Linked DNA regions of Homo sapiens. The protein of the gene in region 1 interacts with the protein of each later gene in a pairwise test. Each region holds a gene or a part of one and is shown in the gene's direction. Other genes may lie near its edges. The genes, in order: AQP6, DNAJC30, MARCHF2 and MARCHF5.

Evidence for each region.
Region 2: the proteins of AQP6 (region 1) and DNAJC30 interact in binary tests that used the Homo sapiens proteins (3 or more experiments, as listed by UniProt).
Region 3: the proteins of AQP6 (region 1) and MARCHF2 interact in binary tests that used the Homo sapiens proteins (3 or more experiments, as listed by UniProt).
Region 4: the proteins of AQP6 (region 1) and MARCHF5 interact in binary tests that used the Homo sapiens proteins (3 or more experiments, as listed by UniProt).

Annotation. Positions count from the first base shown.
Region 1 is NC_000012.12:49,968,668-49,975,954, forward strand, and holds the start of AQP6 (aquaporin-6), read left to right. Parts: upstream 1-4,279; 5' UTR 4,280-4,506; coding exon 4,507-4,908; intron 4,909-5,656; coding exon 5,657-5,815; intron 5,816-6,078; coding exon 6,079-6,159; intron 6,160-6,630; exon of another isoform or gene 6,631-6,797; coding exon 6,798-7,004; 3' UTR 7,005-7,287. UniProt on the Homo sapiens protein: Aquaporins form homotetrameric transmembrane channels, with each monomer independently mediating water transport across the plasma membrane along its osmotic gradient.
Region 2 is NC_000007.14:73,680,452-73,687,922, reverse strand, and holds DNAJC30 (dnaJ homolog subfamily C member 30, mitochondrial precursor), read left to right. Parts: upstream 1-4,469; 5' UTR 4,470-4,499; coding exon 4,500-5,180; 3' UTR 5,181-7,005; downstream 7,006-7,471. Other genes in the region: BUD23 (18S rRNA (guanine-N(7))-methyltransferase), read right to left, coding at 828-924, 1,023-1,105, 1,192-1,287, 4,022-4,156, 4,250-4,269. UniProt on the Homo sapiens protein: Mitochondrial protein enriched in neurons that acts as a regulator of mitochondrial respiration. Associates with the ATP synthase complex and facilitates ATP synthesis.
Region 3 is NC_000019.10:8,408,922-8,416,304, forward strand, and holds the start of MARCHF2 (E3 ubiquitin-protein ligase MARCHF2), read left to right. Parts: upstream 1-4,383; 5' UTR 4,384-4,499; exon of another isoform or gene 4,500-4,873; intron 4,874-7,383. UniProt on the Homo sapiens protein: E3 ubiquitin-protein ligase that may mediate ubiquitination of TFRC and CD86, and promote their subsequent endocytosis and sorting to lysosomes via multivesicular bodies.
Region 4 is NC_000010.11:92,343,147-92,350,167, forward strand, and holds part of MARCHF5 (E3 ubiquitin-protein ligase MARCHF5), read left to right. Parts: intron 1-6,202; coding exon 6,203-6,386; intron 6,387-6,524; coding exon 6,525-6,691; intron 6,692-7,021. UniProt on the Homo sapiens protein: Mitochondrial E3 ubiquitin-protein ligase that plays a crucial role in the control of mitochondrial morphology by acting as a positive regulator of mitochondrial fission and as an important regulator of immune response.

The DNA of each region.
Region 1 (7,287 bases):
GGCTGCCACTGCACTTAGCACTTTCAGGCTCCAAGGCCCAGGGCAGGTGCTGAGGTGCCTGTCTTGGAGCCGCCATGCAGCCCCGTCCCCACAGCTGTCTAACGGCAGGGGGCAGGGAAGTTACAATCCTAATCATTCACATTTTCTGACTTGGAGGCCCTCTCCTAGGTATCAGCACATTTACTCCTAACTACACACAGGGAGGAGGGAATTATTAGCATCATCCCCACTGCATAAATGAGGATCTTGAGGTTAAGCAACTGCTTAGGGTGCAATACACATGGCAGTGTTCACAATCCTTTCAGTGGCCTCATCAGCAGCTCTCAACAGGTAAGCATTGCTGCCACGTGGCGCCCATTTAACAAGGGCAGAAACTGAGGCTAGGTCAGATGAAAGTGCCTGTCCACCAAGCCCTCTACTCGCCCTGCCTGAAGTGAGGGAAGCAGACAAGTGCCCTTGAGCTACCCTGGGACAGCCCCCAGCCAGGGAACCCCCCGTGCCAGGGAGGAACAGTGCCCACGCCGCCCCCACAGCCATGCCCAGTCATCCCTTGAGCATTTATTGAATGACCCCTCTATGCCAGCCAGGGATGGATGTCTGTGCTGGAACAGTGGAGGCATTGAGGAGGCAGAGGCCACAACCAGCCCCTGGCTTTGCTCAAGCCCTGCTTCTCTAAGAAGCTTGCCCTGATTCTGCTGGAGAGGGAAATGAGGGCAGGCTTCGCAGAAGAACAGCACTTGAGCAAAGTCTTGAGAGACAAAAAGGAGAGGCATCCAAACTCCACAGCAAAGGGCTCGTTCTGGGGAAATATGTCTGGCCTGTTTGGAGTAAAGGGTGCAGGGTGGGCAGTGGAAGGGGAGCCTTCCTTGCATGTTAAACATGGGTATTCAGACCTGATTCTGAGGCAATGGGGAGCCATTGAAAGCTTTAGAGCAGAGGAGTAACTTGATGAGCTTTGCATTTTGGAAGGATCTCTCTGACAGTGAGTGGAGAGGAGAGTGGTGTGGAAGGGCACAACATAGTCTGAGAGCCCAGGAAGGAGGTTAATGCAGTCATCCTGGAGAGGTGATAAGGGCTGCACTGGGCCAGTGGCAAGTGGGGATGGAAAGAGGTGTCAAATATGAGAAAGAGCTACCAGGAACCTGGTACAAGGAACCTATTTGCTATGGGCTGGGGGAAGGGGAAGCACCAGATGCTTCCTGTGTTCTGGCCTGGGCAACTGAGTGAGAGTAGGGTGAGGAGGAGCAAGCCGGAGGGTCCAGTGAGAGGTGAGTGGGTCTGGAGTTTAGGAGAAAGATCTGGGCCAGAGACAGTGTTGAGAGTCGACAGTATCTGCAGGGTGTGGAAGTCACAGGTGGGAACAGGGCTGCCCAGGCACACTCATCAGGAGTGAGGGGCCATGGGCCAGGAGTAGACAAGTCCTGGGCTTAAGGATCAGCAGAAGAGGAGCCAGCCATGGAGGCCACGTGGCAGAGTTGCCCTCACAGAGATGGGAGGACAGCCAGGAGATGTGCCTCAAAGGCAGGGAAAAAGAGGCGTCAGGAAGATGGCCGGCAGCCCATGTGCCACAGTGGGCTGGAGAGGAAATCATGCTGGCCTTTGCCAGAGCGGTTTCGGTAGCCGGGGGCTGGGGGCTGTTGTGCAGTGGATAGGTGGCTGGAACCTTGACTCCAAATCATGATCTTTCACTGCTCCGCGACTACGCAGGCACGTTTATAGGGAAGAAGTCAAGAGAAGGGGAAGCCTGAAAGCCACAGGTGAGACTGGGAAAGGCCAAGAGAGGGTCCCAGTCACTCAAAGGGAGCCAGAAGTCCAAGGAGGGTCCCCCGACCCCGACTTGTACACTGGAGAAGGGCTGCCCCTACTTCAAGGCCACAGGGCAGCTGCAGGTGAGTTTGGCTGGGAGGGAGGATGGGAAGAAGTCTTGCCTGGTAGCTTGGCTTTCTAGGTAGGGTGGGAGGCAAGGGTGGGTGCTCTGCTGAGAGAAAGCCAGAGTGAGTCGAATACTTGAAGAGAGTGGGGGAGGTTTAAAGAATGAGGGGAGAGCTGTGGAAGGATTGCTGAGCAGAGCTGCGATCCCTACTGGGGCCAGAGACCATGAACTTGTCATGGTAGCAGTCTGCACGACTGGGTGAGTTTCTCCAGCAGTGCTCAGCAGCGCAGATGGGGGGCAGAAAGGCGTGGAAGAGGATGAGAACAGAGACACGCAGCAGGGACGGGGTGGAGAGGACAGGGAGCCAGGACCACGGAGCGCTGGCAAGAGCCTGCTCAGGGTGAGATGCCCAGGAGTTCCCTGGAGAGGACATGGTGAAGTCGAGACAGCAGGGAGAACAGAAGGAAATGGGTGAGGGATGTTACTGGGACTCAGACAGGGACTGGGGAGGAACAGAGCCTGTAGTCCAGAGTTAAGATGTTTCTCTTGAAGATATCAGAGGGCTCAGTCCCAGTTGGGGGAAGGTATGAGTATGAGGCTGAAATGCAGCAGACATAGTCATCTGCCCCGGGAAGTCAAGAAGTTTTTATTCATTCATTCAACAAATATTTATTGGGCAGTTACTGTGCCAATCTCTGTGCAAGACACTACATGCAGGGGTGAACAAAACTTGGTTCCCGCCCCCCAAAGGCCTCCCCGCCTTGCCTCACTGGGGAGACACATTCACACCATGACAACACCCTGTGGTGACTGCAGTGTAGGAGAATGCCCAGGTGTGGTGGGAGCACGCAGAAGGGTCCCCACCCAGGAAAGGAGCAAGCGACGTCAAAGCTGAGCCTTTGGAATGGGAGTTACCCAAGCAAAGGGAGTGCAAGGGATCTCCAAGAAGAGGAGAGAGCTTTTTCCAAGGAGAGGCCAGCAAGAGTGTGCATTTGGTGAAACCAGAGGGTAACAGAGTGGGGAGAGGTGAGGGAGAGCTGCAGGGTCCCTGAAGGCAGGCACAGAGCTTCCAGAGGGATGGGAGGCTTGGAAGGGATTTTAGCAGGGGAGCAGCATGATCAGATTTGCATTTTAGCACTTGGGCTGCAGTATGGAAAATTGATTGAAACGGAGCAAGGGAGCAGACAGAGAGACTGGTGAAAGGCTGCAGGGCGGCAGGGGTGGCAAAAAGAGGGCACAGTCAGGAGATATTTAGGATTGAAAATCAGCAGGACTTGATGCTTTTCCTGGATGGGGGAAGGAGGGAGAAAAGGGTCAAGGATGCTTCCCAGATGCCACCAGCTGAGCTGCAGAAAACAAGAGGAGAACATGGGGGTTGGGGGGGGTACCAGGAGACAGGAGGATCACATCTGGAGACAGATTGCGTTTGAGGAGCCTGAGAACAACCAGGGGACATCTGTAGGCAGGTAGATATGCCAGGGATGAGGTCAGGACACCCAGCTACGGTGAAGAGGGGAAGACTGTTATTTCAATAGCTTGGCAGACTCTTCTTAGGGAGGAACACTTTTGTTTGAGAAGATACCTTGCTATCTGCTAGGGTTAAAAGGGGAAAGCCTAGGGCATGGGTGACCATAGGGCCAGGGAAAGCCTAGGGCATGGGTGACCATAGGGCCAGTGCAGCCACAAAAAATGGTTAAGCTGCCTTGTGTGAGAAAGGAGTGAAATCTGTTTGGCCCCTGAGAGGAGGAGAGCAGAGACGGAGGAGCCAAGAAGGGAGGGGAGCGCGGGGGAGGGCAGGGAGGCAGGAGGAAGTGAGTGAAGGGCCAGTGGAAATTTCCCCTGGTGGACAGCAGAGGTGCCCATGGCCTTGTGTGATCTGACGCGGTTTGAGTCGCTGTGGAATAAACCCCTTCTCCACCCGCCCCTCTGCAACCCCACAGGCCACAGTGTCCACAGCGTCCTTGGTAAAGTCGACTGTATTCACATCTGCATTCTGTGAGTGCGGGTATAGGTGGGAGTGGAGGAGGGAACTTACTTTCTGGGTTTACGGGCACGGTGTGGTGTCAGCCCATTTGGAAGCAAAGCCTAGATATGGAGGGGGCCAGACGAACAGGACCTGGGAATGCACAGGACCCCCTGAAGCAGGCCGGGGATCTGAGTGATCTTGCTGTATCTAAGCTGACATTGGAACATGAACAGTCTGAAATCCCATGAGCCCCGCTGCCCTGCACCTGCGACCCTCAGGCTAGACCTTGGACTGTCTACAACACGAGTCAGGCCCAACCCGCCCTGGAAATCATCGTAGGAGGTTCCAGCTCAGTGCCCAGAGACAGCCCCCACATCCCACCCCATCAGGTCAGCTCAGGCTGGAGCAGGCATATGAGCAACACCCCTCATTCCACCCCCATACACATGCATAAGCCCATCCGCCTGCGCCCTGCCAGTCTGACCAGCACAGTCCTGGGGACAGGAGCGTGGTGGAGGAGCTGCAGGTGGGGGCCAGAGAAGCCTCCACAGAGAGCAAAAGCCAGGGTCAGCCAGAGACAGGACACCAGAAGAGACAGGAGATCAGAGACCAGAGGAACAGAGAAGAGGCCCCAGAGCAAGGCAAGGAACGGCCAAGGCACCAGGACATGGATGCAGTGGAGCCAGGGGGACGTGGCTGGGCCAGCATGTTGGCGTGCAGGCTTTGGAAAGCCATCAGCAGGGCGCTGTTTGCAGAGTTCCTGGCCACGGGGCTGTATGTGTTCTTTGGCGTGGGCTCAGTCATGCGCTGGCCCACAGCACTTCCCTCCGTGCTACAGATTGCCATCACCTTCAACCTGGTCACCGCCATGGCTGTGCAGGTCACCTGGAAGGCCAGCGGGGCCCACGCCAACCCCGCCGTGACGCTGGCCTTCCTCGTAGGCTCCCACATCTCTCTGCCCCGTGCTGTGGCCTATGTGGCTGCCCAGCTGGTGGGGGCCACGGTGGGGGCTGCTCTGCTTTATGGGGTCATGCCGGGAGACATCCGAGAGACCCTTGGGATCAACGTGGTAGGTGCAGGGAGGGGCACCTGGAGGGCCAGGAGGCGGGAATGCGCACAAGTGGTGAAGGTGGAGGCCAGGACGGAGGCGAGGGAGCAAAGGAGGAAACAAGTCAGCTGCAGGCTCCACATCCTCCCGGGCTGGGCCCCAGGACCCAGAGGACTGAGACTTTGACCTCAGTCTAGGCAGAATAGAAATGGGATAGTGGCGCGAAGAACAGGTGGAGAAGGAAGAGGCCACATAAAGGAGAAGGAATAGAAGGACCAGGCGTTTAAGGGTAGATGCGGCCAAGGGAGTGCGGGGCCTGTGGGTAGAGAAGGGGACCCCACGGGGACTTCATTTTTCTCCCAGGCTCCACCCACGTCCTCTGCTCTCCGACTGTTCCCAAGTTCTTCCCTCCACCTCGAGGCCTGCCTCACTCGCCCCTTCTCCATTTCGTAACCATCTGTGTTCCACCTTCTTCCCCCAAATCTCCTCCTTCCACACCTGCTGCCAGTCTCCTCTCAAGCAAGCCTCCTGAACCACTGGCCCCAACCAACCCACTGGTGGGGTGGGAGGAGCACCACTCACTTCTGCAGGGAGCAAGGGTCCAGAGCAGATATGGACCCCTCTGCACAGGCCTCCCGAAGTCCTGAAGCTGGGCGGCAGTGAGGTGTCACCCCCCTCCAGCTGAGGAGACCAGGCCCAGTGGCAGGGGTTTCTCTGTCTGTCCGTGGGCAGAGCCCGCGTCTGGTCCAGAGTAACTCCCTCTGTCCAGGTCCGGAACAGTGTCTCAACTGGCCAGGCGGTGGCAGTGGAGCTGCTTCTGACCCTGCAGCTGGTGCTCTGTGTCTTCGCTTCCACCGACAGCCGTCAGACATCAGGCTCCCCGGCCACCATGATTGGGATCTCTGTGGCACTGGGCCACCTCATTGGGGTAAGGAACAGAGGGGACACCGTGCACATGCACACACCGGGTCCGTCCCCGGGGAAACTGTGGAGCCCTGAAGGCCAGGCAGTGTCCCTCCCTGAGCCCCTCGTGCCTTGGAGCCAAAGTGGTACCCCCTGCACTCTAGGCCCAGGATATGGCACTACAGAGGCCGTGGCTGGGGCTAAGGCTCTGAGCCAGGACTGAGAAATGGTCCCCTCTCAGGCCTGCCTTAAACCTTCTCCCACCCTGACCCTGCACTTGCTCCCCAGATCCACTTCACTGGCTGCTCCATGAATCCAGCCCGCTCCTTCGGCCCTGCCATCATCATTGGGAAGTTCACAGTCCACTGGGTGAGCCCCTCTGCTGGCAGCCCTGGGGAGGGAAGGGAGCCTGAGTTGCCTGTAGACGGTGGGTTTCACTTGCAGCTTCCCTAAGCTCAGAAGGCCAGGGTGAATGTCTTGGCTGAGACTTCCTTTCTTTTCGGCTTCAGTTGCCCAGGATACCCAGTGGACTGGCAAGAAATGGGCCAGGGCAGGAGCTGCAGCCTTGGCCCAGACTTTTAAGTCCTGGCTGTTTCCTTATTCACTTTCTCCAGCTGGACCAATTTTCAAACTTGGATAAAGAAAAAGACAAACAGAAATAGACACACACACCAGCAGAGACAGAAACAGCAATAGCCAGGACTCCTGGCTAAAACGGGGGAAGTGAGAGGAAAGAGGCGGGGGCGGGTGAGGAGACTGGCCCCAGGCCCCAGCCACGGCTGCAGAGCCTGGGCTCAGCCCCAGGGAGGGCAGGGAGAGCAAGGGGCAAGGTCCCCTTACCTTGTGGGCTTGGGAAACACGACTCGTGGTTCTCAAATTTAGCACCTTACAGACAGTTGAGGGAGACCTGGGAGATCAAGTCGGCACTGGGGAAGCAGGCAGCGGTCCCAGAGCCACCCTGTGGTCCTGATAGCTCCTGGGTGGGGTGACGACATCCTTCTCCTCAGGTCTTCTGGGTGGGGCCCCTGATGGGAGCCCTCCTGGCCTCACTGATCTACAACTTCGTCCTGTTCCCCGACACCAAGACCCTGGCGCAGCGGCTGGCTATCCTCACAGGCACCGTAGAGGTGGGGACAGGGGCAGGGGCAGGGGCGGAGCCCCTGAAGAAGGAATCCCAGCCGGGTTCGGGAGCCGTGGAGATGGAGAGTGTGTGAAACAGCCTACGCCTGGCCGCGCCCTTGGGCTTCCTGCCTTGCAGGACCTGCCTGGAGGTTCTCCCTGGGGGTGGCGGGAGGGGGAGGCTTGACCTTTTGTCCTGACCAGGTGGGCTGGAGGGGACAAGCCCTATCCCTGGCATTACGTTTCTAGGTAGAATCTGGGAGTGAATTTGTCCCATTCCCTCTCTGTAGGGCTTCCCCACCTCTCGGTGGGACAGAGCAGAGGAAGGCAGGGGATTTAGGATCGCCCTCCCATCCTCTCACCCACTGGACCCCGTAG
Region 2 (7,471 bases), on another chromosome or scaffold:
CTCCATCTCAAAAAAAAAAAAACAACAACCACGTCTGGCTTTTTAGTAGAGGCTGGGTTTCACCATGTTGGCCAGACTGCAAAGTTTTAGAATCCAAAAAAATACACTCTTGGGCCTTGCTCTAACCTTGTAAATCTGAAAATCCCATGGGATGTGTATTTGTAAATATCTGCATGAGTCTGCTGCACAGCCAGGTTTGGGAGGCACTGGCTTGCAGGACTAAAAGCAGGAAGAAAGAGGCCAGGGTGGCTCACACCTATAATCCCAGCATTTTGGGAGGCCCAGGTGTGTGGATCGCCTGAGCAACATAGCAAAAACCCATCTCTACAACAAATACAAAAAAAGTTAGGCTGTGCACGGTGGCTCACACCTGTAATCCCAGCACTTTGGGAGGCCGAGGAGGGTGGATCACAAGGTCAAGAGATTGAAACCATCCCGGCCAACATAGTGAAACCTCACCTCCACTAAAAATACAAAAATTAGTTGGGTGTGGTGGCGTGCTCCTGTAATCTCAGCTACTTGGGAGGCTGAGGCAGGAGAATCGCTTGAGCCTGGGAGGCGAAGGCTGCAGTGAGCCAAGATCACACCACTGCACTCCAGCCTGGTGACAGAGCAAGACTCCATCTCAAAAAAACAAAAAATTAGCTAGGTACGGTGGTGTGGGCCTGTAGTCCCAGCTACTCAGGAGACTGAGGTGGGCAGATCACCTGAACCCAGGAGGTGGAGGCTGCAGTGTGAGCCATAATCACAGACACTGCACTAGAGCCTAAGTGATAGAGTGAGACCCTGTCTCTAAATAAATAAAAGCAGGAATTAAAGACCCTCACCTGATGCAACCATCAAATGTGCCTGGCTTGAATGGGATGCCCTGGCCCATATCCCCCAGCAGCAGGTCTCCCTCTATCTCTCGGTCCACAGCCTCATCTACATTAGAGAAAAGGCAGTCAGAGAAAGAGAAATACCTGTGGCTTCTCCACACCCATCAGGGTAATCCACCCTGGTGCCAGACAGGACATACTTACCCAGCATGGCAGGGCTGATATCCAGGCCCACCCAATAGTGCCCTTCATCTGACAGATAACTTCCACTCAGCCCAGTGCCACAGCTGGAAGACATGACCAGACACTCAGGGTCAGTTTACAAAGACACTTCACCACCTTAGACAATCTGAACCAGGCCCCAGAATCTCACCCAATATCCAGCAGGTAACAGGGCTTATTCTCTGGCAGATAAAGAAGCTCCAATGCTCGCCCAGCCATCCTGGTCTGGATATCAATCATCCGTGAGCTGGTAAGGCAGAAACACAAGTGGACATGGTAAAGGAGTTCTGGGTGAATACTTCCCCCAGACCAAAAAACAAAAAACAAAAAAAAGCCAAGTTAAAAACAAACAAAAAACGGATCAATCATCCCGAGGTACTCTTTTCTGACCCCTTCTAAGTTGGGATCAACAAATTCAACCATTCGAAAGTGACCCCAAAAATTCCATGTAATTCAGGACCATGTTATTTTGTGGTAACAACTTATCATTGCACCAGCTGCCAAGCAGATGTGTAAAAGCAAATCACTTAGCTAGTAATAAACAACCACTGGGATCTGCAACTCTATTAGGCTGGGCTGCTCTAGCACTTGTTGAAAACATTTTCTCCAAAAATTATTCTCCATAGTTTCTCTCATCTAGAAGGATCAACAATGCACAAAAACCTACAGCAGCACTGTCTGTGAGAAACAGAATGTGAGCCACGCATGGCTTCCCAATAGCCAGTCAAGAAGAAACTTAAAGAAACAGGTAAAAGAAACTGGAGTCATATTTTTTTTTTTTTTTGAGACGGAGTCTTGCTCTGTTGTCGCCCAGGCTGGAGTGCAGTGGCGCGATCTCGGCTCACTGCAAGCTCCGCCTCCCGGGTTAATGCCATTCTCCTGCCTCAGCTTCCCCAGCAGCTGGGACTACAGGCGCCCGCCGCCACGCCCGGCTAATTTTTTTTTTTGCATTTTCAGTAGAGACGGGGTTTCACCATGTTAGCCAGGATTTCTCTATCTCCTGACCTTGTGATCCGCCAGCCTCGGCCTCCCAAAGTGCTGGGATTACAGGCGTGAGCCACCGCGCCCGGCCTCTGGAGTCATATTTTTAACCCCATATATTTAATAACGTATTTCCATTAACTCAATATGTTCAAAATATCACTTCAACATATAATCGACATAAAAAGTCATCAGCAAGGACCGGGCCTGGTGGCTCACGCCTATAATCCCAGTACTTTGGGAGGCCAAGGCGGGTGGATCCCGTGAGCAACTTACCAGATCCCTGGGCAACATAGCAAAACTCCCTCTCCACAAAAAAATTACACAAACTAGTCGGGCGCGAGGAGGCGCGCCTGTAGTTCCAACTACCCGGGAGGCGAGGTTGCAGCCACTGCAGCACTTCGGCCTGGGCGATAGAATGAGAGCCTGTCTCACACGCACAAAAAATTATCAAGCTATTTCAGCCGGTGTGGTGGCGAGTGCCTCTAGTTCCGGCTGCTGGGGAGGATGGCTTGAGGCTGCAGTCGGCAGGGATCATGCCATGGCACTCCAGCCTGGGCAATAGAGAGACCCTGTCCCTAAAAAAAAGAAACAGTATCCAATAGCTATTTATTTATTTATTGAGTCAGGGTCTCACTCTGTCGCCAAGGCTGGAGTGCAGTGGTGCGATCGCAGCTCACTGCAACCTCTGCCTCTCAGGTTCAAGTGATTCTCCTGCCTCAGCCTCCCGTAGGCCCGGCTAATATCTGTATTTTCAGTAGAGACGGGATTTCACCATGCTGGCCAGGTTGGTCTCGGAATTCCTGACCTCAGGTGATCCGTCCACCTCCGCCTCCCACAGGGCTGGGATTACTGGTATGAGCCATAGCGCCCGGCCAGTAACCATTTACTGAAATAGGGCTAGTCTCTCAGTGAGAGAGCACGGAAAAACCACAAAGTATCTTTTTTTTTTTTTTTTTTTTTTTTTTTTTTTTTTTTGAAACAAAGTCTTGCTCTGTCGCCCAGGCTGGAGTGCAGTGCCGTGATGTCGGCTCACTGCAACCTCCCCCTCCCGGGTTCAAGCTATTCTCCTGCCTCAGCCTCCCGAGTAGCTGGGGTTACAGAAACCCGCCATCGCGCCCGGCTAATTTTTTCCATTTTTAGTAGAGCTGGAGTTTCGCCATGTTGGCCAGGCTGGTCTCGAACTCCTGACCTCAGGTGATCCGTCTGCCTCAGCCTCCCAAAGTGTTGCGATTACAGGCGTGAGACACCGCGCCAGCTTCCCCCCGCCCCCATCCCCCCCCCTTTTTTTTTTTTTTAACGACTCGAGGTGCGCTGGCTCACGCCTGCAATCCCAACAGTTCGGGAGACGAAGGCGGGAGGATCGCTTGAGCCCTGGGCTTGGGCCACCTTGGGCAACACAGCGAGACCCCATCGCAACAAAAATTTACAAAAAAAAGCCAGGCGTAGTGGCGCGCGCCTGTGGTCCCAACTACTGGAGAGGCAGAGGGGAGCCACCACACCCGGCTAATTTTTTTATTACTTGCGGAGACGGGGGCTCGCTACGTTGCCCAGGCTGGTCTCGAACCCCTGAGCTCAAGCGATCCTCCCGCCTCAGCCTCCCAAAGTGCTGCGATTGCTGAGATTACACGCGTGAGCCACTCCCACCTGGCTACAACTCAGTAGTTATACAAACTACCCTCTATGAAATTCAGACAATAATACACCAACTGCTGTCTTGGAGATTTATTGGCAACAAGGCGCCACGATAAGCATCCTACGGCCATTACTTCCTTCCCCCCACCAGGACTGACCCCTCGCCCGTACCCACCGCCCAGCGCCTCTTTTACCACATGTTTAGGACAAATTGTCACATTCGACTTTGAAAACCACCCACGGAAAGCAAGCGCGATCACCCCTACCTCAACGCTGAGGTACCGAGGCCCAGAGAGGTCGGCAACTTAAAGTTGATTTACCAGAGACAGAAATCGGCACCCACCCGGGTCCTTCCCTTCCCGCACCCCCAAATTCTACGGCCTTTCCGGGCAACGCCAGCAACAGGGGCAACTTGCCGCTTCCCGACCCCCGGACGCCCCGCAGTATTCAGGCTCCCCTCACTTGCGAACGTATTTCCGGGCTTCTGTCTCGTCATAAAACTGCGAAAAAGAGAAAATGGCATGTAGAGGAATAATTCAGACGCGGTGGCCGCAGAAGTGGGGAGAGGGGTGTCCGCGGGCCCCGGGACTTACCAGCTCTGGGGGTCCGCCATGCTCCGGACGCCGGCCGCGGGACGCCATTCTCACGCCTCAGCAGCACACCTGCGACTGGCGCCTGCCGGCACCCGGTTTTTATGTCATCAGCCCGGCGACCGCTTAGTAATACGCATGTTCCACCCCCACGACCGCCCCGCCCCCCCCTTTACGTGACTGGCCACAGGGCGACCAACCGACTCCTCTCATTGGCCGGTTTCTCTTGCACCGCCTGCCGAATCAATTCAACATGGCAGCCATGCGCTGGCGATGGTGGCAGCGGCTGTTACCTTGGAGGTTGCTGCAGGCCCGTGGCTTTCCACAAAATTCTGCACCCAGCCTGGGCCTAGGAGCGAGGACTTATTCCCAGGGCGACTGCTCGTATTCGCGCACGGCGCTGTATGATCTGCTCGGCGTCCCCTCCACAGCCACGCAGGCCCAAATCAAGGCGGCTTACTACCGTCAGTGCTTTCTCTACCACCCGGACCGCAACTCCGGGAGCGCGGAGGCCGCCGAGCGCTTCACGCGCATCTCCCAGGCCTACGTGGTGCTGGGCAGTGCCACCCTCCGTCGCAAGTATGATCGCGGCCTACTCAGCGACGAGGACCTGCGCGGACCTGGCGTCCGGCCCTCCAGGACGCCCGCACCCGACCCCGGCTCGCCGCGTACCCCGCCGCCCACCTCTCGGACCCACGACGGTTCTCGGGCCTCCCCCGGCGCCAACCGCACGATGTTCAACTTTGACGCCTTCTACCAGGCCCACTACGGGGAACAACTGGAGCGGGAACGGCGCCTGAGGGCCCGGCGGGAGGCCCTTCGCAAACGGCAGGAGTATCGGTCCATGAAAGGCCTCCGCTGGGAGGATACCCGAGACACGGCTGCCATTTTCCTCATCTTTTCAATCTTCATCATCATCGGCTTTTATATTTAATCGGAGAGAGAAGGGAAGGGGAGTGTCCCCAGCCAACCCCCCAGAAACGGCCTTTTTTCCTGCCTCTGAACCCTTGGCCATTGATAGTCTACCTTTGCTGGGATCCGAAGGAACTGTACTCCCCCTGCCCTCCCCGACCCGCCCAGCTTAGCCGATGACCTGCACATCGCTCCACTGTGGTCCAGAAAAGGAGGCCTTTCGATGTCTGAGAAAGAGGCCCCACGCTGTAGAGTCCCGAAAGCCCAGGAGTGAAGGGGGTTCCTGGAGTCTCTAGGGTGCTTCTTCCAGAGTCTGTCTTCTTGCTTCCAGATGTGGTCAACTTCTGGAACACTCGCTGTAGCTTTATTGTTTAGCCCCAAGCAAGATTTATCTCCTCCTGCCCCGCATGTGTATGGTGGGCCTCTGTAACCTTGAAATGTGCAATGTGACCAATTGTTGACTACCAAAAGAAAAGGTCTGGGGTTGTACGAAACTTGTCTTTCTGTGACTTCCCCAAGCCGCAGGTGAGACCTGGTCCAGGGTAAGAATGGGATCGGTGGAGAGCCTGTCGTTCCTCCCGCTAAGGTCAGCCCCCTGGGGCACTCCTCCTTATGTTGATAGCATGTAGGAGTGAGAAAAAGTCATTGAGCATAAGGAATGAGTGTTCCTGTGCCCATATTTAATGTGTGACCTTGGAGAAGTTACTCTGTAGGCATGACAGCAGAGGAGAAAATCATTTGGCATCTTGAGGTCTGTCATGCTTTATTATCCATAGTTTTTGGGGGGTTTTTTGTTTTGTTTTGTTTTTGAGATGGAGTCTTGCGCTCTGTTGCCCAGGCTGGAGTGCAGTGGTGCGATCTTAGCTCACTGCAACCTCCACCTCCCGGGTTCAAGCGATTCTCCTGCCTCAGCCTCCTGTGTAACTGGGATTACAGGCTCCCACCACACCTGGCTAGTGTTTTGTATTTTTAGTAGATACGGGGTTTCACCATGCTGGCCAGACTGAGGTCTCGAACTGCCGACCTCAGGCTGTCTGCCCGTCCAGCCTCCCAAAGTGCTGGGATTGCAGGCATGAGCCACTGCTCCCGGCCCTATTATCCATAGTTCTAATCCACAGGGATTACAGCATAATGCTAGCAGGGCCAGGTTCATCCTTGAGACAGTGTGGCTGGCTGTCACCTGGTCCTCCCTTTACCAGCCAGCCCCATTGCACACTGTGCAGCCCATCCCCTCCCAGAAATAGAGTGACAAACTCTGCACTTAAGTCCCCTGTTTCTGTTTAACTTGCAGTGCTTATCACAGGCCCTTCCTTAATTTTTTAAACAAGGCTGCTTGAGGCTGGGGTAAATTTTGGGGCTTTGGGAGTACACAGGACTACTGAGGGACGGGGAGTTGGTGGCTTGGTGTTCATGGTGGAGACTTGGTTCTTTACGCAGAGCAGGCTAAAGGCGTGTTTTTTCTGCTCTGTTTCTAATTCATGTTAAGTAGTTGGTCATCACTTTGGTCAGAGCTGCTGCTGAAGCTCTCTTAACTGTGAGTCACTGGACGTTGGCAGGGAGTTGGCTGTGAGATTGTAGGTGCTCAAGTGTTTCTGTTCGGGACTGAGTGTGAATCTGTAAAAGGGGAAAATCCTCGCAAGAGGTCTACGAGAAGGATGAGGGCCCAAGTCTAGGGTCTAAACAAAGCCAGGAGTGGTTTGGTATATTACTGAGTGCAATCATTGCGTGCCATTCCTGCACTCAATGTATTGTGTAAAATCCTTAGGTAAAATGGGATAAACCCACAGCTGGTCCTACTTGGCCTCTTGAAAACCATTCCATCATTGTGCCAATCTAGCCTGAAAAGGAAAAAAAAAAAGGGAAACCATTGATTGTCTCTTGCCTCGGAGGTTGGGGGTATGCCCCTACTCCAGGCTTTGCAGTGATCATATGATGCAGTAATGAAGATCTGGGGCCTGGCACAACACTTTGGGATCCACCCAAGGCGGGTGGATCACTTGACCTCAGGAGTTGGAGACCAGCCTGGGCAACACGGCAAAACCCCATCTCTACAAAAATCACAAAAATTAGCCGGGTGTGGCAAGTGCCTGTAGTCCCAGCTACTCAGGAGGCTAAGGTGGGAGAATCGCTTGAGCCTGAGAGGTCGTGGTTGCAGTGAGCTGCGATCCTGCCACTGCATTCCAGCCTGGGCTACAAAGCTAGACCCTATCTCAAAAAAAAAAAAAAAGAAAAAGAAAAAAAAGATTTGAGCCCAATCTGGTTCAGACCTGTTTGGCTCAGTGAGCCTGGACTTGGGGGAAGGGGATATGTACT
Region 3 (7,383 bases), on another chromosome or scaffold:
GCCTCCTGAGTAGCTGGGACTACAGGTACACACCACCATGCCCGGCTAATTTTTGTATATTTATTATAGATGGGGTTTCACCATATTGGTTAGGCTGGTCTTGAACTCCTGACCTCAAGTAATCCACCCACCTCAGCCTCCCAAAGTGCTAGGATCAGGAATTTGACACCATCCTGGCCAACATGATGAAACCCCGTCTCTACTAAAAATGCAAATTCTAGATGGGCATGGTGGCAAGTGACTGTAATCCAGCTACTCAGGAGGCTGAAGCAGGAGAATTGCTTGAACCTGGGGGCAGAAGTTGCAGTGAGCCAAGATCGTTCCATTGCACTCCAGCCTGGGCGATAGAGTGAAACTCCATCTCAAAAATAAATAAATAAATAAATAAATAATAAATAAATAAATGAAATTATCTGCCAGGCACAGTGGCTCACGCCTGTAATCCTACCACTTTGTGAGGCCGAGGCAGGAAGATCCTTTGAGCCCAGGAGCTCAAAACTAGCTTGGGCCTCATAGCAAGCCCCGTCTCTATTATTTAAAAATTAAGGCCAGGCACAGTGGCTCACGTCTTTAATCCCAGCACTTTGGGAGGCCTAGGCAGGTGGATCACGAGGTCAGGAGTTTGAGACCAGCCTGGCCAATACGGTGAAACTCCGTCTCTACTAAAAATACAAAAAAACTAGCTGGGCATGGTGGCGTGCACCTGTATTCCCAGCTACTTAGGAGGCGGAGGCAGGAGAATCGCTTGAACCCAGGAGACAGAGGTTGCAGTAAGCCAAGATTGCACCACTGCACTCTAGCCTGGGCAATAGAGGGAGACTCCATCTCAAAATAAAATAAAATAAAAAATTGGCTGCGCGCGGTGGCTCAGGCCTATAATCCCAGCACGTTGGGAGGCCGAGGCGGGCAGATCACGAGGTCAGGAGATCGAGACCATCCTGGCTAACATGGTGAAACCCCGTCTCTACTAAAAAATACAAAAAAATCAGCCGGGTGGGGCGGCGGGCGCCTGTAGTCCCAGCTACTCGGGAGGCTGAGGCAGGAGAATAGCGTGAACCCGGCAGGCGGAGGTTGCAGTGAGCCGAGATCACGCCACTGCACTCCAGCTGGGCGACAGAGCGAGACTCCGTCTCTAAATAAATAAATAAATAAATAAATAAATAAATAAATAAATAAAATATCATTCGCCACTAAAATGAACCAGGGCTCTTCGGAAAAATGGTTGAGTCCAGGCCTGGGGCAGGCAAAAGACAAGACAAGTCAGCCTGGAAGAGTTTGTTGAGCCAGTTAGTAAGGAAATGCCCCAAGATGGAATTAGAAAATCACCATTTGGGGCCGGGCGCGGCGGCTCACGCCTGTTATCCCAGCACTTTGGGAGGCCAAGGAGGGCGGATCACCAGGTCAGGAGATCGAGACCATCCTGGCTAACACGGTGAAATCCCATCTCTACTAAAAAAAAATACAAAAAATTAGCCGGGCGTGGTGGCGGGCGCCTGTAGTCCCAGCTACTCGGGGGGCTGAGGCAGGAGAATGGCGTGAACCCCGGAGGCGGAGCTTACAGTGAGCCGAGATCGCGCCACTGCCCTCCAGCCTGGGCGACAGAGCAACGCTCCATCTCAAAAAAGAAAATCACCATTTGGTTGCTATTATGGTAATAACTGACTCAGGCAAGGGTCATCAATTGATATTAAGCTCTTGGAAACGGCGTGTGTTGAGGAACAGGCTATTTAATTACTTTCGAAGTATCTCCCCAGAAAGCACTTATTAACAAAGTGTAAAGTCAGGTGCCGTGGCTCATGCCTGAGGTTAGGAATTTAAGACTAGCCTGGCCAACATGGCGAAACCCCATCTCTACTAAAAATACACAAATTAGCTGGACGTGGTGGTGCGGGCCTGTAATCACAACTACTCAGGAGGCTGAGGCAGGAAAATCACTTGAACCGGTGGCGGAGGTTGCAGTGAGCAGAGAGGGCGCCACTGCACTCCAGTCTGGGCCACAGAATGAGACTCCATCGCCAAAAAAGAAAAAAAAAATTGGTCGGGCGTGGTGGCTCCTGCCTGTAATCCCAGCACTTTGGGAGGCGGAAGTGGGCAGATCACTTGAAGTCAGGCGTTTAAGACCAGCCTGACCAACATAGTGAAACCTGCCTCTACTAAAAACACAAAAATTAGCTGGGCGTGGTGGTGCGGGCCTGTAATCCCAGCTACTCGGGAGGTGAGCCAGGAGAATCCCTTGAACCTGGGAGGCAGAGGTTGCAGTGAGCTGAGACCACACCATTGCACTCCAGCCTGGGTGACAGAGTGAGACTCTGTCTCAAAAAAAAAAAAAAAAAATTAAAATTAAATAAAATATTAAAAACAACAACAACAACAAAACACCACAGTGTAACATACTAACCTCACACTGGAGAAACTGGCAGACACCATTTGAACCAAGTTAGCACAATCGATAGTGGACAAAATCAGCATTGTATGCATCCTGAAAACACAACGTCACATCTGTTTCCTGCCACAAATGCAAAATCATGAGAAAGTATTAGACAAATAGCAATGGAAGGACTTCCTGCAAAATTACTAGCCTGGAATTTTTGAAAAATATTGATGTCATGGAGAGAAGGTAAGATTGATAAAATGTTCCAGAAAGAGAGACTAAATTAGAGTCGTTAACAACAAAATACAATGCTTGATCCTGGGATGGATTTGGGATTTTTTGTTTTTTGACACAGGATCTTGCTCTGTTGCCCAGGCTGGAATGCAGTGGTGAGGTAATGGCTCACTGCAGCCCAGAACTCCTGGGCTCAATTGATCCTCTCACTTCAGCCTCCCAAGTAGCTGGGACCACAGGAGGATGCCACCACAACTGGCTAATATTTTTATTTTATTTTGTAGAGATGGGGTCTCACTGTGCTGCCCAGACTGATCTCAGACTCCTAGACCCAAGAGACCTTCCTGCCTTGGGCTCCCAAAGAGCTGGGATTGCAGACATGACTCACTGTGCCTGGCCTGGACTTTGGATTTTTAAAGGACTTTATTGGAAACTTTTCTTTTCTTTTTTTTGAGACAGAGTCTGGCTGTGTTGCCCAGGTTAGAGTGCAGTGGCAAGATCTCCGCTCACTGCAACCTCCACCTTGCAGATTCAAGCAATTCTCCTGCCTCAGCCTCCTGAGTAGCTGGAATTACAGGTGCCCACAACAAAACCCAGCTAATTATTTGTATTTTTAGTACAGACAGGGTTTCACCATGTTGGCCGGGCTGGTCTCGAACTCCTGACCTCAAATGATCCAAGTGCTGGGATTACAGGCATGAGTCACTGCACCTGGCCTTTGAATGGGCTCTGGGAATTACATGATAATATTAGATGAACATTAATTTTCTGATTTTGAAGGTTATACTGTGATTATGTGCAAAAGTGTGCTTATACTAAGTGAACATATAGTGCAGTATTTTTTTAAAAATTGATCTGTCTTAGAGATGGGGGTGGGTGAGTTTACTATGTTGCCCAGACTGGCCTCGAACTCCTGGGCTCAAGTGATCCTCTTGCCTCAGCCTCCAGAGCAGCTGGGACTACAGGCCTGGGCCACCACACTTGGCTAACTTTTATTTTATTTTATTTTATTATTTATTTATTTATGTATTTATTTGAGACAGAGTCTCACTCTGTCACCCAGGCTGGAGTGCAGTGGCGCGATGTCGGCTCACTGCAAGCTCTGCCTCCCGGGTTCACGCCATTCCTCTGCCTCAGCCTCCCGAGTAGCTGGGACTACAGGCGCCCGCCACCACGCCCGGCTAATTTTTTTGTATTTTTAGTAGAGACGGGGTTTCACCGTGTTAGCCAGGATGGTCTCGATCTCCTGACCTCGTGATCCGCCCGCCTCGGCTTCCCAAAGTGCTAGGATTACAGGCGTGAGCCACCGCGCCCATCCTTTTAAATTTTTTGTAGAGACGGGAACTCACCATGTTGCCCAGGCTGGTCCCCAACATCTGGCCTCAAGCGATCCTTCCGTCTCGGCCTCCCAAAGTGCTCCGATTACAGGCATGAGCCACTGCACCCGGCCAGTCTCAAAAAAAAAAAAGTTAAATTCTGCAGAGGTTTTATTTATTAGAGGACGCTGGCCGTCTGCAGGTGGCGCAGCAGCACCCCCTCGTGCCTGGGGCGGGGCTGGGGCGGGGCCAGTGCTGGGGCGGAGCCGGAGCTGGGGGCGGAGCCAAGACGCGGCAGGGGCGGAGCCAGCAGCTGCGGCACAGCGGGGCCTGTGCGGCCCAAGTCGTCCCTGTGGCCTCCGGCCCCGCCTCTTAGGGCGGGACGTGCAAGGCGATTGGCGAATGCAGGCGAGAGGCGGTCGCTATTGGTCCGCGGCGCTGTCGGCTCGGCGGGCGGTGCCCGGACGCAGGTGCCGGCCGGAGCGGAGCTAGTGGCGCCGACGGGCCGGGCCGGGCCGGGACCGGGGCCGAGGCGAACCGAGGGGCCTGTGCGGCCGCCCGGCCCGGCCGCGGATCAGGTAGGCACGGGCCTGCAGGTAGGGCCGGAGGACGCCAGTCCGCGGGCCGGCCCCGGGTTCGAGGCCGGAGCTCGGCACCCGGGCGGGACGGCTGGGCTCGATCCCTTGGCCACAGCCTTCTCGGGGACGCGGGGACCTCAGTTCCCGTGTCAAGGCCGGTGGGAGGTCTCCGGGGTCCGGCACACATAGGCGCCTCTCCGAGCCTCGGTTTCCCCACCTGTGAAACTGGGTCATCCCATTGCCAACCTGATGGGGCTTCTGGGAGGATTCAGGAGGTGGCTGGTGCAGAAAACGCCTGACACACAGTAGGCAACTGCTAAGTGGCCAATGCCCTTCCCCAACCTCCTTCTCAGAGCGGCTCTGCCTGCAAAATAGTAAGTTATAATATAATGACCCAGCCACTTTGCACAAAGATGCTGAAACAGGATGCCCTGTGCTATGTGGGTGCTCAAAACGGGGTAGTCAAATGGGCATGTTGAGCTCATTCAGTTCTTTTGAAACCATACTGAGTAGGTGGAAGCAGTAGAAATGTCCCCTGTTATACAGTTGAGAGAGTCCAGGCTCAAAGAGGTTAAGTGTCTTGCCCAGGGCCACACAGCACATAAGGAGTAGAGCTGGGATTGGAACCTTGCTTCTCATGCAGGGAGGAATGAATGCAATAACAACCTCCACATTTACCCTAAAAAATATTAATAGAGCTTTTATTGAGCACTTACTGTGTGTGCCAGGGTTGACTGTGTGACCTCTCATCAACAACTCTGTAAGCTGATGATAGTAATTATAATAAGAGCTAATAGTTATTAACTTCTTAATTTTTTACTAATTTATGAACTACATATCATTATGACTCCCCGTCTTTTTTTTTTTTAGACAGAGTCTCTCTCTCTTGCCCAGGCTGGAATGCAGTGGCACGATCTGAGCTCATTGCAACCTCTGCCTCCCAGATTCAAGCGATTCCTACCTCACCCTGGTCAAGTAGTTGGGATTACAGGCCCCCGCCACCGTGCCTGGCCAATTTTTGTCTTTTTAGCAGAAACGGGGTTTCACCATGTTGACCAGGCTGGTCTCGAACTCCTGGCCTCAAGTGATCCACCTTCCTTGAACTCCCAAAGTGCACAAAGTGCTGGGATTACAGGCGTGAGCCACTGCGCCCGGCCTGTAACACTCATTTTAGAGATGATAATACTGAGGCTGAGAGAGTAAAACAGCTGCCTGAGACCACAATGTAGGGAGTTTTAGGGCCCTCTGATTCCTCTGCCCTCTGTTTCCTACCTTCAGGAAAAGGAGCCTGGGCAGGTATGGAAAAGACTGGGGGGCCTCAGTGCCACCCTAAACAAGCCTAGCTAAGGGTGAGCTTTACTGGATGAATTCAGCCTGGAGGCTCCTTCTCAGGAGACCCCTCCACGGACAGAGTCCACCAGCTCCATCATTAGAATGAGGCCCAGAGAAGCAAAGTGACTTGAACCAGGACACCCAGCATCGGTGGCATAGCCAGGAGGGCCAGGAGTTAAAGAACCCAGGTCTCTTGAGGTCCAGAACCACTCCCTGGACTGTTTTAAGTTCAAATTCTGACACCACCCCTTCCTAGCTATATGACCTTGGGAAAGTAGGTGCCTCTCTCCGAGCTTCAGCCTCTTTCCCCATCATAGGGTGTAATTATTGGTTTGTTGTGAAGACTCAATGAGATCTATCTCCAGGCCGGGCGTGGTGGCTCATGCCTGTAATCCCAACACTTTGAGAGGCCAAGGCGGGCAGATCACTAGGCCAGGAGTTCAGGACCAGCCTGGGCAACTTGGCAAAACACCATTTCTACAAAAAAATACAAAAATTAGCTGGATGTGGTGGTGTGCAGAGCTACTCAGGAGGCTGAGGTGGGAGGATCACCTGAACCTGGGGGCGGTGGAAGCTTCAGTGAGCTGTGATTACTACACTGCCCTCCAGCCTTTTGGGTGACAGATTGAGACCCTGCCTCAAAAGAAAAAAAAAAAAAAACAGACAAAAGAAAGAAAAGAAATAGGCCAGGCGCGGTGACTCATGCCTGTAATCCCAGCACTTTGGGAAGCCAAGGCGGGTGGATCACCTGAGATAAGGAGTTTGAGACCATCCTGGCCAACATGGTGAAACCCCGTCTCTACTAAAAATACAAATAATTAGCCAGCTGTGGGTGGAGGGCACCGGTAATCCCAGCTACTCTGGTGGTTGAGGCAGGAGAATCGCTTGAACCTGGGAGGCGGAGGTTGCAGAGAACCGAGGTGGTGCCATTGCTCTCCACCCTGGGCAACAAGAGTGAAACTCCATCTCAAAAAAAAAAAAACAAAAAAAACAAAAAAAAAAACCAGACAAAAGAAAGAAGAGAAATAAATCTCCTGGGCACTGGGCCAAGTTTGCTGGAGCCATCAGATCACTCTCCCATTTCAGCAGCCTCAGAGCTGAGTCCGACTTGCAGTCACCCTCTCTTTGTGTCCAGCCTCAAGTTTGGCCTCTTCCAGGCCTGGGCCTCTGTGGTTTGAGTGGACCTCTAGCCTCTAAATATCTCTGATGCCCACCACAGGGGCTGGCCGACCAGGATCGGAGGGTCAAGAGATGTGGCTCTCTCACGCTGTTCTTAAACGGAGTGAGGATTGAGAAATGACTACAACATGGCCAGGCACAGTGGCTCATGCCTGTAATCCCAGCACTTTAGGAGGCTGAGGTGGGCGGATCACGAGGTCAGGAGTTCGAGACTGGCCTGGCCAACATGGTGAAACCCTGTCTCTACTAAAAATACAAAAATTAGCCGGGTATGGTGGTGGGTGCCTGTAATCCCAGCTACTCGGGAGGCTGACGCAGGAGAATCCCTTGAACCCAGGAGGTGGAGGTTGCAGTGAGCTGAGATCGGCCACTG
Region 4 (7,021 bases), on another chromosome or scaffold:
GTCTCCTCCAACCCATCCTTATGTTGTGTAGTTTTTCACCTCTGTCCTTTGGCTTACGTCACCTTCCCAACCTAATACCTGCCCTTCTAGTCTTCTGTGTACTTATCCAAATCTAAACCCTCCTTCCAGGCTTAGCTAGCTTTCCTCCATAGAACTTACAGGCAACTCCTGCCTGCTGTGATTCCTTCTTCCCCCACATTCATGACATTTTTATTCCTCAAATGGCAGCTAGTCCTGCCCTGATGAAGTGACATTTCTTATATAGATTATCTGTTTAACTTTTCTTGTTTTTAGGCCTTATTTTTCCTGTTAGGAGGTAATTTCCTTGAAAGCAGAGTCCATTTTATGCTTCTGTATTCCCTGTTACAGCATCTACATAGAAACTAACACATTAAAGGGTTTCATAAATCTTTGTGGTTTTGTTTTTTGTTTTTTTGTTTGAGACAGAGTTTCGCTCTTGTTGTCCAGGCTGGAGTACGGTGGCGTGATCTCAGCTCACCGCAACCTCCGCTTTCCGGGTTCAAGCGATTCTCCTGCCTCAGCCTCCCGAGTAGCTGGGATTACAGGCATGTGCCACCACGCCCAGCTAATTTTGTCTTTTTAGTAGAGATGGGGTTTCACCATGTTGGTCAGGCTGGTCTGGAACTCCTGACCTTAGATGATCTGCCTGCCTCTGCTTCCCAAAGTGCTGGGATTACAGGTGTGAGCCACTGCACCCGGCAGTCTTTATGTTTTTTATGTGACCACTTCAAATAATGAGTATTAGTACATCACCTGAGGAGGGAGGATCAGGATGATTTACTAAGACTGAGAAAGACATAGAAACTTAGAGCAGATTATACATTATTTAATGTACAAATACATTATATAGATATATATATTTTGCAAATGAGATTGAGTTATTTTCTTAAGACTTTATTGACCATAAGAAGTGAGATGGCTCTTTTTTAAGAAAGATTTTTAGGCTGGCACAATGTTAAAAGAATTTTGATAATTAATGGGGCACTTGTTAAAACACAAATAAATTGAAAACTCTGATCCCCAGCATCAAGGGATATAGTCCAAGACAAGACGTTCATAAATGAAACCACTGGAGAACAGTTACAGGTTAGATAGATAAATGTGATAAGAGGGCAGAAGACTATATAAACAATATTTTAATTCAGTAAAAGTGAAAGATAATTTGATTTGAAATTATGAGAAAAGTCTTGAGCTAACCCTTAAAGGAAATAATTTGAATTGGTAGAATGAAATAAGCAAGGAAGCAAAAACTATAGTACACATATGTGTTACCATTTAGAAATAACCTTCACATGTAATGTCTCACTTGAAAAGATTTTTTTTTTTTAGCCCAGAAATGAGACTAGCTATGACAGTAGGTGGATAGTGTTGTGTGATTTAAGAGTATTGGGAAGATGACTTTTACCTTCCTGAGCACATATGATAGAGAATGTGCCCCTCTACACCATCAGTAGTATTTAGGGTTTGCCTTCTAACACTTGATTGTTTTTCTCTGATTCCTTAACAACCCTGCAGTACAAGTAAACCAAATCAAGGAATCAGATCACTGTTATTTTCCCATTTATTTTCTTTCCTTCTCCATGGACCTGTCATAGAATCAATACTTTTTAGTTGTGGGGAACTTGAATAGGACCTTCCTCTTGCATTTTTATTGAAAAGACAACACAATAATTTTTTTTTCTCGGCACTGTATTGAACACCTAGCACTGATGCATTTAACCCTTGCAACAATTTTATGACATAGATTATTGTTATAAATTATTCCTAGTTTACTGGTTTAGAGAGTTTACAGGTCCAGTGCCACACAGCAGAGAAGCATTAGGACTCCTGTCCCTTGGCTCCTTAAGTGAAGCCTGGTCCCAGAGGCAGCTGGAACATTTTATCCTGGAACAGTGGAACCTTAATATGTTTAGCCTAGTTCCCATTTTTGCCTCTAGTGCAAAGACAGCCCCCATTAGCATTGCCCATTCTTAATTACAGTACTTACTTATCCTTGATTCTGAGTTAAAAAAAAAAAAACCCTGTTATTTCATCACTGTTTCATCCTCTTGTTAGGATTCTGGCCAGGTGCTGTAGCTCATGCCTGTAATCCCAGCACGTTGGGAAGCTGAGGCAGGCAGAACCCTTGAGGCCAGGAGTTGGAGACCAGCCTGGTCAACATGATGAAACCCCATCTCTACCAAAAATACAAAGAAAAAATTAGGCATAGTGGCTGTATTCCCAGCTACTCCGGATGCTGAGGCGTGAGAATCGCTTGAACCTGGGAGGCAGAGGTTGTAGTGAGCCAAGATTGCACTCCAGCCTGGGCGACAGAGCAAGACTCTGTCTCTAATTAATTAATGTAGAATTCTAATAATAATTTAAAAGCTCAGACCTTAATTAAAACTGTTAGCCTTTCAGCAGCAATGAACTGCAGGCCTACCTAGATATGAAAATCTAGCTTTTAGCCCTTCTGCAGGAAAAACAAAAAATTATTTTTCTCTAAACCTGCAATTCTATAGGTCTTTTGTTTTTCTCTTTTTTTTTTTTCTTTTTTTTTTTTTTGAGACAGAGTCTCATTCTGTTACCCAGGCTGGAATGCAGTGGCGCAGTCACGGCTCACTGCATCCTCGAACTCCCTGGGCTCAGGTGATCCTCCCACCTCAGCCTCCTGCACAGCTGGGACTACATACACATGCCACCACGCCCTGCTAATTTTTGTATTTTTTGTAGAGACAGGGTTTCACCATGTTGCCCAGTCTCAAACTCCTAGACTCAAGTTACCCACCTACCTCAGCCTCCCAAAGTGCTTGGATTACAGGCGTGAGCCACTGTGCCCAGCCAGGCCTTTATTTTATACATAGATAACAAATTCTTAGACATTCTATATAATTCCTGGAGCTTACCCCAAAATCGAAGTCTTAAAAATAATGTTTTTAAATCTTGGGACAAGAAAGCAGAATGTATGTGATTACACACAGGTTCACTGACTTTGTATTGGCCAAAATTAAATCAGGCCTATTGCTTAATCACCTTTCATTTATTGCCCCTGAGTATGACTGTTTTAGCAAGTGGTGTACTGCAGGTGTTATACTACCTTATTTCTTCACAGTGTATATATTTGCACACTTGTTTGGTTTGATTTTCTCTCACTTTCAAAAGACATCTGTTTAACCTGCCATTTTAGCCCCAGCACAAAATCATTATTCAGTGAATGAATGAATGCATGTGTGAATGATGAGCCTCATCCCACTTCTAACTTGCTTGAGCATGGGGCATCTCTCTTCACTTTAGTTGTAACAAGTGAAATACTGGGCCTTTGCTCATTCTTTGCCCTATTTCCTTCTTTTTTTTTTTTTTTTTTTTTTTGAGATGGAGTTTCACTCTTGTTGCTCAGGCTGGTGCAATCTCGGCTCACTGCAACCTCCACCTCTTGGGTTCAAGCGATTCTCCTGCTTCAGCCTCCCGAGTAGTTGGGATTACAGATGACCACCACCACGCCTGGCTTGTATTTTTAATAGAAACGGGGTTCCACCATGTTGGTCAGGCTGGTCTCAAACTCCTGACCTCAGGTGATCCGCCTGCCTCAGCCTCCCAAAGTGCTAGGATTACAATTGTGAGTCACAGTGCCCAACCCCTACTTCCTTTTTGTTTCCTTATTCTTAAACACCTTATAAGGTTTTTACTGCTACCCATGAGAAACAAACTTCCTCTTGTTCGCTCTAGTCTATACCTGAATATTCACTCTTCTTTATATTTCTAAACCCAAAAAAAGGACACATAACCCGACAAAGGATTTTTTCAAATATTCTGAATTTATTTGCTAACACTTTGAGAATATTTAATCATATTTAGTTATAATGTTAGAGTGATCATTATATTGAAATTTTTAATGATATAAAAATAGAATTTCTTAGCCAGACGTGGTGGCACTCATCTGTAGTTCCAGCTACTCAGGAGGGTGAGGTGGGAAGATTGCTTGAGCCCAGGAGTACAAAGCCAACCTGGGAAACGTAGCAAGACCCTGTCTTTTTTTTTCTTTAAAGGAATTTCCTGGCCGGGCGTGGTGGGTCACGCCTATAATCCCAGCACTTTGGGGGGCCAAGGCAGGCGGATCACCTGAGGTCAGGAATTCGAGACCAACCTGGCTAACGTGGTGAAACCCCATTTCTACTAAAAATACAAAAAAGTAGCCAGGTGTTGTGCCATGTGCCTGTAATCCCATCTACTCAGGAGGTTGAGGCAGAAGAATAGCTTGAACTCAGGAGGTGGAGGTTGCAGTGAGCCAAGATCATGCCAAGACTGAAACTCCGTCTCAGATAGATAGATAGATAGATAGATAGATAGATAGATAGATAGATAGATAGATAGATAGATGATAGATATATAGATAGATAGATAGATAGATAGATAAAGAAATTTCCTGGGAAATCATTATAGGTAAAACAGTCATGGCCAGCTAACTTTTGCTACCATTATGGAATTGGGGTTTATGAAATATCATAAACCAGACCATTTCACTTTAGGGCAACTCAAAAGGATCACCTTCCACATGCAAGATAGGAAGTTGTTAAGTTCTACCTGGAGACACAGAAGAATATCAAATTCGATGACATTATTGACCATTAGGAAGAGGCTAGCCTCCTGCCCTTTAATATTACATCTTAATTAGATAAATTAACCAAGTGGAAATCTGGACTATATCCATAGCTCAAATTTGGTCCTCTCCACACACTTTCATAAAACATTTCTGGGGCCGGGCGCAGTGGCTCACGCCTGTAATCCCAGCACTGTCGGAGGCCGAGGCGGGTGGATCACCTGAGGTCAGGAGTTCGAGATCAGCCTGACCAATGTGGAGAAACCCCGTCTCTACTAAAAATACAAAAATTAGCTGGGCGTGGAGGTGCACACCTGTAATCCCAGCTACTCGAAAGGCTGAGGCAGGAGAATTGCTTGAACCTGGGAGGCAGAGGTTGCAGTGAGCCAAGATCGTGCCATTGCACTCCAGCCTGGGCAACAAGAGCAAAAAATTCCGTCTCAAAAAAAAAAAAAAAATTTTTGGCCAGGCACGGTGGCTCGCGCCTGTAATCCCAGCACTTTGAGAGGCCGAGGCAGGCTGATCACCTGAGGTCAGGAGTTCGAGACCAACCTGGCCAACATGATGAAACCTCGTCTCTACTAAAAATACACAAATTAGCTGGGCATGGTGGCATGCCCCTGTAATCCCAGCTACTCGGGAGGCTAAGGCAGAAGAATCGCTTGAATCCAGGAGCCGGAGGTTGCAGTGAGCCAAGATCACACCACTGCACTCCAGCCTGGGCAACACAGCGAGACTCCATCTCAAAAACAACAACAAAAAGAGGTAAATTTAAGGCCAAGATTGATGTGGAAGTGAAAAGGATTTTGGAGAGAGGGAAAAGGTAGAAGTTCACAAATGCCAATTTTGTATTTCTCGCCTTCTGGGATCTACACCAATTTAGAAATAGCCCCAAGACTAGGATAGGGTAAGGAAAAGATTGTATTAGCTTCATTACCCCCATAGATAGGGTACCCTAGAGTTCCTGAATTGGGAAAAATGCCTGGGATCTGTAACCAAAACTGGACCTCCTACTACAGTCCCTCAATTCTAGACCTTGGAAGTGCACTTAAGGAGGGTTAGGTCTGTAGGGTAGACACTTAGCCAGCCAGAGACATCACACCCTATCTTACACACCACTAAGTAAGGAGAAAGAGCCAAAGAGAAATGAGCTTTCAGGCCATCTCTTGAAGGCCGGTCCTACCTCTTGGCTGGCTATGCTTAATCTCCTAGAAGGAAGATCAGGAAAACAGTTGTTTTGCTGGAAGACAAATAGGACTTAGAATTATATCCCAGTTCCGTAGCCCAGTCTAACCAAATCAAATAAAGGAATAGAAGCAACAATCAGAGGTCCCCGCCCCTCTATTGTAATGTAATCAGTCTGGGTCAGCCATTTTAATTTTTATTCCTGTGTGGTATGAAATGGCTTGGGAACTTTGTTTTTCCCTTGAATGAGACATTTCTTATAAATAAATCAGGACTGATAGCTTTCCAGCTTATTTTTTAAACTTTTTATTTCTGTGTATTCTTTTGAAATTAAGCATTTTCTATTAAAAAAATAGAGCTTAACATGCAACACCTCATTTGAAAAAGAAGTAATTCTAATATATGCTATCTGTTTCACAGGTTGTAGGTCATAAAGAAGGTCTGGATGTTATGGAGAGAGCTGATCCTTTATTCCTTTTAATTGGACTTCCTACTATTCCTGTCATGCTGATATTAGGCAAGATGATTCGCTGGGAGGACTATGTGCTTAGACTGTGGCGCAAATACTCGAATAAACTACAAATTTTAAATAGTATATTTCCAGGTAAGGCACTGAACTGTGGTTGTAAAGTGCATACCAAATTGATCTTGAAGAACAATAACATGCTTTTTTAGCCATGTTTGAAGGTAGTCTAACTCTTCTGATTTATTAGCACTAACGCACTGCATTTTTTTCCTCTAGGGATAGGTTGTCCTGTTCCTCGAATTCCAGCTGAGGCCAATCCTTTAGCAGATCATGTCTCTGCTACTCGAATCTTGTGTGGAGCCCTTGTCTTTCCTACTATTGCTACAATAGTTGGTAAATTGATGTTCAGTAGTGTTAACTCTAATTTACAAAGGACAATCTTGGTAAGACGGCTTTAACATTACTTATATTACCTTGCAAAAGAGAATGAAGTGTATTTGTTTTTAAAAGGTGGGGAACTGTATAAATATTCGGTCTGTGGCTCCTATGCATTAAGCCTCTATTTGAGCCTCACTATCATTCAATAGCTTGAGTGGAAATAAAAAGAGGAGAAACCACTGCAGCAGTTCTGGCCTTTTGGAACTATGTTGTAGGTGCTTTCTCTCCTGGCATATGCATGAATCATCACACCTGTCCCTCTTGCCAGTGGGATTACAGTACTTTACGATCAGACCACCTGGTTCAAATCCCATCACAGAAATTGTCTTGCTGTG